2 linked regions of the Homo sapiens genome follow. The protein of the gene in region 2 purifies or fractionates together with the protein of the main gene of each other region. This does not show direct contact. Each region holds a gene or a part of one and is shown on either strand. Other genes may lie near its edges.

Region 1 (3,989 bases), 250 kb from region 2:
AACCAAACACTGATGATTTCATCAGAGATAACGCTAAACACGTGTTGATTCTAAATACCTCCTTTAATCTATCAATGTGGTTCGTGCCATTAACTGATTGCCTAATATTGAACTAATTTTGCATTCCTGGGATGAACCCAACCTGGTCATAAGGAATTACCCTTTTTTATACATTGCTAGCTTTAAGATCCTAATACCTTGAAGATAATTTTTGCATTCATACTCATGACATTGGCCTATAATTTTCTTTCCTCTTTTTTTTTTTTTTTTTTTTTTTTTGAGACAGTCTTGCTCTGTTGCCCAGGCTGGAGTGCAGTGGGGCGATCTCGGCTCACTGCTACCTCTGCCTCCCAGGTCCCAGTTCAAGCAATTCTCCTGCCTCAGCCTCCTGAGTAGCTGGGATTACCAGCATGCACCACCATAATGGTGAGACAGGGTTTTACCATATTGTCCAGGCTGGTCTTGAACTCCTGACCTCGTGATCCACCCGCCTCAGCCTCCCAAAGTGCTGGGATTACAGGTGTGAGCCACCGCACTCGGCCTATAATTTTCTTTTTTTGTATCACCCTTATCAGATTTAGGGTCAAGGTTATGCTAGCCTCTTTTTTAATACTCTGTGTAAAACTGGGAATTACTTATTCCCTCAGTGATTGCTACAACTCACCAATGACACCAGCTACGTCCAGAGTTTTCTTTGAGGGAAAATCCTTGACTACTAATCCAACGTCTTTTTTTTTTTTTTTTTTTTTTTTGAGAGAGAGACTTGCTGTGTTGCCCAGGCTGGAGGGCAGTGGTGTGATTACAGCTCATTGCAGCCTCGACCTCTTGGACTCAAGCCATCCTCCCGCCTCAGCCTCCCAAGTAGCTGGGACTACAGGCGTGCATCACCACACTCAGCTAATTTAAAGAAATCTTTTTTGCCTAGGCTGGTCTCAAACGATCCTCTTGCCTTGCCTTCCCAAAGTCCTTGGGATTACAGGCATGAGCCACTCAGCCTTTTTCTTCTTTTTCTACAATAGTCTAGAAAAGTTCGCCCAATAACCTGGCACCCTCCAGGTTTTTTTTTTTTTTTTAATGGAGTTTCATTCTTGTTGCCCAGGCTGGACTGCAATGGCGCAATCTCGGCTCACCACAACGTCCGCCTCCCGGGTTCAAGCGATTCTCCTGTCTCAGCTTCCAGAGTAGCTGGGATTACAGGCATGCGCCACCACGCCCGGCTAACTTTTTGTATTTTTAATAGAGACGGGATTTCTCCATGTTGGTCAGGTTGGTCTTGAACTCCCAACCTCAGGTAATCTGCCCGCCTTGGCCTCCCAAAGTGCTGGGATTACAAGCATGAGCCACCGAGCCTGGCCCCTCCAAGTTTTTAACAGTGAAGAATGTTACTTGTGCAAGTCAGAATCTGATACCAATTAAATGGTGACAGCTTTGCTGGTAAACAAGAATATGCTCTTCCATGGCAAGGAAGGGAGACTGCCACACTTGACAGGTCCCAAAGATACATGGAGTTCAGTGTCTTTAATGAATATCAGCTATTGGCGATTTCAATTTTCTGCTTTTTATTGAATCGATTTTGGTAAGTTATATTTTTCTAGGCAATTCCAAACATTTGGATTATAAGGATAACTGATATCTTGAATGCTGACCCAGAGGTGAACTCTGCAAAAAAAGTGCCTGGTGAATCAGAGAAATAACAGCTTACATATGTACTGGATGTTACAGTTTATAAAAGTACTGCCCATAGATCACCTCATCTGAAGACCAATGTCTGGGCGGCTTTGGTGACTTTTTGGTGTCTAATTATTTGCAAAAGGATGGATAACTTTCTAGCTAAGCAAAACAGCTGATTCACATCAACCCTATTCCTGGCCAGGCTAGAAAATCTGTGGAGGACTATGCAACTATTCCTCACTTCAGTCCTCGGAGTCATTTGTCATTGACAGGAGAGAAGCAGCCACCAAGTGCCTTGGGAGTGAGCGTTGACATGAGGGTGTTAGCAGTGTTCTTAGCTCATGGAAACCTTCCCCAAGGCAAGGCAAGACCAAGCTGGGAATGGAAAGTCTGGCGGCTGTCATGTTTACTAATGCGGATGGAACTGCCTCTACCTGTGGTTCCACAGGGCACTTGGTCCAGGACGCAGTGGGCAGCGCCAGGACAAAGCACACTCACCAGGGCTTCAAAGTCCTTACAGTCGCCGCGGGCGTAGGACGCGGGGAAGGGCCGCAGCACCGAGTCGCGCTTGTAGCTCTGCAGGGCCGAGGCGAAGAGGCTGCACCGGAGGTCGGCGGCCAGCATGTCGCGGCCCGCCGCCTCCCTGGCGGCCGCCCAGCCTGAGGGCTGCATCCCAGGTCACTGCGCGTTGCCGGGGTAGACGCGCTGGTTAGGGGCAAGGGCGAGCGTGCGTTCAGCGCGGGGGCTGGGCCCGCGGACAATGGGCCGTCAGGGGCCGGGTTCCCAAGCCTGGGGTGGAGCTAGGCAGGGGGCTGAGATGACAGGGGTGAGAACGTGCCGACAAGTGTCCTCTGCCGGGGTCTGGGCCGCGGCTCGCCGCCGAAGAGAGAGACCGAGGCCTGGACCGCGGGTCGGCGGGGAGGTTGGGCCCAGGGATAAAGGAACTGGGGCTGGTGGGGGGGAGGGGTTCCCGGCCTAGGGGAAGGGCTATGACAATGGAATGACAACCGCGGGAACGTGCTGACACGTGTCCTCCGCGGAGGCCTGGGGCGGGAAGCAGCCCCCGGGGGACGGCGGGCAGAGCCCACTCTCCGCGACGGGCGAGGCTGCTGCGCCGCGCGCGCCTTCCTGCCCCGCCTCCCGCCGCGCCGCCGAAGTCCCGCCTCTCGCCAAGCTGCCCGCGGCGCCACCTGTCTTCCGCCTGCAGCTCACGTCCGCTTGCCTTGCCCGGCCTACCTCCCCTCCCGCCGCCGCGCTCCGCCCGGCCCAGCCGAGGGCCCGCCCCTTCGCGCCCCAGCCAGCTCCACCGTACGGGTTGTGCCCGCCCCTCCCAGACCCCGATCACCCGCAGCTACGAGAGTTGCCGCCGCCAGTGTGTGCCGGGCGACGTCGCCCACGCCCCTGCCAGCCATCCTCACAGCAGCAGCAGCCCTGGTAGAAATTGATGTGGGCACCCTCTCGACCCGCCCCTGTACTTGTCTTTGTCCCAGCTCTGCGGACTGAGCCTACCTCTCTTCCTTGGGGTATTAATGCTACCTATTGTCTCTCTTGAATCTTTTCCCTCCAAAACTGCACAGAAGGAGCCATTTAACACCCAGGGAAACTGAGGCTTAGAGTGCTGCAATGCTTGCCCAAGATCCCACAGCCAGATGGGTAAATCTAGGATTCACACCGAGATCTTTGGAAAACCAAAAGACTTTTCCTCTGCTTTTCAGCCTCCAGAATTCTCTGAATTGCTTAAGTCTCTGGCCTCAAATGCCCCAAGATCCTCCTTGGGAGACCTCTCTGACAGGGAGCTTGGGGGAGAGCAGAGGGGCATTGACTTAACTCTGCTGGAGGGTAAGGACTAGACTCCCATCCCCTCTCCCTACTCAGAACCTTCATTAGAGAAAACCCCAAAGTGTGACCTCATGGTCACATGCAAATCTAAACACAGACCATTGTGCTTAAACCAACACACCGCACACACTCCTACCCTGCAGGATCTTCTGAGGAAGAAACTTCTCCTTCTGCATCCAGGCTGTGCTGGGCCCTGGACTCAGAGGAGAGGTGGTCCCATGCCATTGGATTGCATCTATGACTTCGGGAGGTAGGGCGAAGACTGGTCCCCCAGACACCACAGAGCTTCCCATCTTCTTTTGCCAGGTAAAGGTTGGGGGCTGCTCCCAGGAGCCCACATCAAATCTGTTTGCTCTGAGGCCTAGAACCACAAGGCCCCTAGTGCTTCAAAAGCCATGGGGGTTCTCATAGGACCCAGGAACTCTAAGGTGGCTTCTGAAGCTCAGACCCCAGGAAGGGAGAGCTTGGAGTGGGTCAGG
Region 2 (4,147 bases):
CTTTGTGAGCTCAGCACATTCATTATATGAAAACTCTCTATATTTTATTCTGTCCACTCTTGAGCTAAATGTTTCCAGAGAGCTAGCAGAATTTGTTTTCAGCGTTAGATCCCTCTGCTAAACAAACGGGTGCTAATAGAATCACTTTGCTAAATAAATGGGAGCTAACAGGATTGAATATGAGTTCCATTTTTGTCCCAGAGTTCTAGTTTTCATATAAATATTTCTTCCCATTAAATTCTTCTCTGCAGAAGAACTTGGGGATGAAACCCGATACAGACAAGACAGCTTAAGTAAGACATAAATGAGTGTTGTCTCTAGTTTGAGTTTCCTATTTTTTTGAGACAGTCTCCTGCACTGTCCAATAGAATAGCCACCAAAAATATGGATATTTAAGTTTAAATTAGAAGTGAATAAAGTTGGCCGGGCGCGGTGTCTCACGCCTATAATCTCAGCACTTTGGGAGGCCAAGGCGGGCGGATCACCTGAGGTCGGGAGTTCGAGACCAGCCTGACCAACATGGAGAAACCTCGTCTCTACTAAAAATACAAAATTAGCCGGTGGCGCATGCCTGTAATCCCAGCTACTCGGGAGGCTGAGGCAGGAGAATCACTTGAACCCGGGAGACAGAGGTTGCGGTGAGCCGAGATCGCGCCATTGCACTCCAGCCTGGGCAACAAGAGAGAAACTCCGTCTCAAAACAAAACAACAACAACAACAAAAAAAAAACAGAAGTGAGTAAAATTGAAAATTCGGTTATTCAGTTCAAGTACTCAAAAGCCTCATGTGGCTAGTGGCTACCGTATTAAAGAGCGCAATGTGCAATATTTCCATCATCACCTACAGTTTTATTGGGCAGCGCTGCCCTGGTCTTTATTTTCCCTTGTTGGAACGCTCTTCCACGCTGCTCCCACACCATGTCCCCTATCACCATTATTATCCTCATTTCATCTGTAATTACTTGCATCTTTTAATAGGCTGGGAGTTCTAAGACAGAAGGGACTGTGTCTCACTTCTGTTGTTCCAGTGTTTAGCTTTGAAACCCAGGCACACAGTAGGTACTCAGTAAACAGAATGCGAAGGACCGTCCAGAGACACCAGTCCCAAACCCTTTTCCAGGCTGATCGGTCCCCCATAAGTCTCCAGCCTTTTTTATTTTAAAGCTTATTTTAAAGCATGTCCCTGAAGACGAGTGGGGAGAGCAGACCACCCGCTGATTCCAATTCCCTAGGCGGCCGCGGCGAGCTGCGGCGTCTCTGTGCCCCGGCCTGCCCCTATCCCGCCTGCGCCCCGCCCCCGCCCGGCTCGCGCCAAGGCCCGCTGCTGGCGCCGCCGCCATCCCGGCGCGTCACTGCGCAGGCGCGGCCCGCGAGCGTGGGGTATCTCGAGGTGCCGGGTTGCAGGCGCTCAGGAGCGCTAGGGTTTGAGGCCTGCTTTCTGCTCGCGCCAGCAGAGCACTACCTGAGGCAGCGAGGCGCAGCGAGCCTAGCCTCCCCGCGCCCTGGGCAGTGTGGCCATGGAGAATCAGGTGTTGACGCCGCATGTCTACTGGGCTCAGCGACACCGCGAGCTATATCTGCGCGTGGAGCTGAGTGACGTACAGGTAAAGGCCGGGTCGGGCGGCGGGAAGCGCGCGGGATCGCGGCTCCGGGTACCCGCCAGGACCCCTGCCCCCTTTGTCCGCGTGCGCGCCGGAGAGCCTGCAGTGCGCCAACAAGGTCGGCGACGCGGTGCGCTTACGGCGTGCTGGCGCTTTTCGAGGCTCATCTGCAGATCTCGGGCCGGGGGCACAACCCCCCGAGGGCTGCAGGAACCTTCGGGTCCCCAGAGAGCTCGGCCTGGGCCTCTCAGGCTACCCCGGGCCTCTTCTTTGTTCGCAGTCGGCGGCCTTCATGGAGCCCAGGCCCGGCCCTGGCTGCCTGGCCGTCGGGGTTCGAGTTGGCTGGGGCCCTTCGAGATGTGGGATGAGCTTGTTGGGTCAGGGGTGCGGTTGTGACAGCGGCTTGCTGGGCCGTAGCTGAATGCCTGCCGCTGGCCTGAGAGGTCCAGCCAGGCCCCTCGGACGTTACTGAGGCTGGGCGCTGCCGGAGGTGGGGGAGGGGGAGGGGTGGGGGGCCACACCCACCTCGCAACCGTTCAGTGATGGAAATCATTCTCATTACTTTTAATTTTAAAATTCACAAGAGCTGGAGGAAGTGATTTCCCCCTCTGTTCTGAAGGTTGTGAGCTCAGGTTTGCTGAGTTGCACAGAGAACTTAAAAAGTTCTTAAGTTACATTAAGCATTTCTGTTTGAGCTCCTTGGCCCTTAATGTAAGCAAGCTGAAGGCACGTAGTAGTGGAGACTCCAGGACCTGTGTATCCTCATGTCTCTGTCCAAACTAAAGATTCTGGGCTTTGAGAAACTGGAATTTTCATTCTGGAAGGTTCTTTCTTTCTTTCTTTCTTTTTTTTTCTTTTCTTTTTTTTGAGACGGTGTTTCGCTCTTGTCGCCCAGGCTGGAGTGCAATGGCGCGATCTCGGCTCACCGCAACCTCTGCCTCCCGGGTTCAAGGGATTCTCCTGCCTCAGCCTCCCGAGTAGCTGGGATTATAGACGCGTGCCACCATGCCCGGCTAATTTTTGTATTTTTAGTAGCGACAGGGTTTCACCATGTTGGCCAGGCTGGTCTCGAACTTCTGACCTCAGGTGATCCACCCGTCTCGGCCTCCCAAAGTGCTGGGATTACAGGCATGAGCCACCGCGCCCAGCCTCTGGAAGGTTCTTTCTACAGTCATTCTTATTGGAAACTTCTCCTTAACATCTATGGCACTTTGTCATCTCTTTCACTCCATTTAACTCTCTCTGCCTCTGAACAGGCATCTGCTTGGATCACCCGTGGATCCGGTAAAATGTAGGTGCTTTCTGAGTGTCGACTTGAATTTATTGAATTTAATATAATCTTTGCTTCTGGAATATAAACAGTTTTCCTGTTGAAAGATGAAGACAGTAGTGGCCAGAATGCCTTTAAATAGGCTATGACATTGCATGGTGTGTCGTTTAATGTGTTCATCCAGACTGAGGCTATACTTTTGGGTCAGAGTATGAGTAAATGTTCTGTGCTGTCTCCCTCTACTGCTCCACGGTGGTTTAATAGAATAGGAAAAAACAAACAAAATCTTTTGTAGATGGGGATCAAAGTCCCCGTCTAGAGAGGGTTCTTCCAGCAGTCAATAAAAAAGTACGGAACAGGCCAGGTGCTGTGGCTCACGCCTGTAATGCCAACACTTTGGGAGGCCGAGGCGGGAGGATCACCTGAGGTCAGGAGTTCGACACCAGCCTGACCAACATGGAGAAACCCCATCTCTACTAAAAATACAAAATTAGCCGGGCATGGTGGTGCATGCGTGTAATTCACTATGTTGGCTACTCGGGAGGCTGAGGCAGGAGAATTGCTTGAACCCGGGAGGCGGAGGTTGCGGTGAGCTGAGATGGTGCCATTGCACTCCAGCCTGGGCAACAAGAGTGAAACTCTGTCTCAAAAAAAAAAAAAAAAAAGTAACCATCTAAAAATTTTTGGGGAAAAATAAATCATTTTTCCCCCTTATTGAGTTTTTGTTTTCTCTGGGGTTTCACATCTGTAGTTTTGAGGCACCCATATTTCAACTACCATTAGTTTAAAAGCATGATGTTACCCTCATAAAAGAGTGTTTACATGTGTTAGCAATCCTCTAACACATGTAAGGTAGTACAGATTTACAAAGGTGAGTCAGACCCAGCTTTTCAAGGGCATGCTATCTAGAAGGAGGCGTATCATATACAAACAAAAAGTTTTGTGTAGGAGTATGTTTATTGGTAGAATTGGAGTTGGATGTTGAACCAGGTATCTGGTGTTAAAGGAATTTGTTACCTTTCTTTCATTTAGTTAGTGATGACTTCCAGAAATGAGAATTATTTTTGTCAAACTAAGACTGGGAGAATGTTCCAGAAAGAGAAAGGCATAGACTTTTAGACACTTGTAATCTCTGACTTAAGCCGTGTCAATGCCCAAAGGCCACCAATAACACACCCGTAGTTAAACAAGTTGGGTTTATTACTCATTGCATTGAGAGAGCATACTCCATGGGGAACCCTGGGGTGTTTCATTAGGAGGGTGTTAGAACTGATTAT

The links.
Region 1: the proteins of HACD3 (region 2) and PARP16 purify together in Homo sapiens (affinity purification with mass spectrometry; one large-scale study listed by BioGRID and IntAct). This does not show direct contact.

Annotation. Positions count from the first base shown.
Region 1 is NC_000015.10:65,284,084-65,288,072, forward strand, and holds the start of PARP16 (protein mono-ADP-ribosyltransferase PARP16), read right to left. Parts: upstream 2,801-3,989; 5' UTR 2,344-2,800; coding exon 2,170-2,343; intron 1,509-2,169; exon of another isoform or gene 1,378-1,508; intron 1-1,377. UniProt on the Homo sapiens protein: Intracellular mono-ADP-ribosyltransferase that plays a role in different processes, such as protein translation and unfolded protein response (UPR), through the mono-ADP-ribosylation of proteins involved in those processes.
Region 2 is NC_000015.10:65,529,116-65,533,262, forward strand, and holds the start of HACD3 (very-long-chain (3R)-3-hydroxyacyl-CoA dehydratase 3), read left to right. Parts: upstream 1-1,347; 5' UTR 1,348-1,516; coding exon 1,517-1,603; intron 1,604-1,678; exon of another isoform or gene 1,679-1,718; intron 1,719-4,147. UniProt on the Homo sapiens protein: Catalyzes the third of the four reactions of the long-chain fatty acids elongation cycle. This endoplasmic reticulum-bound enzymatic process, allows the addition of two carbons to the chain of long- and very long-chain fatty acids/VLCFAs per cycle.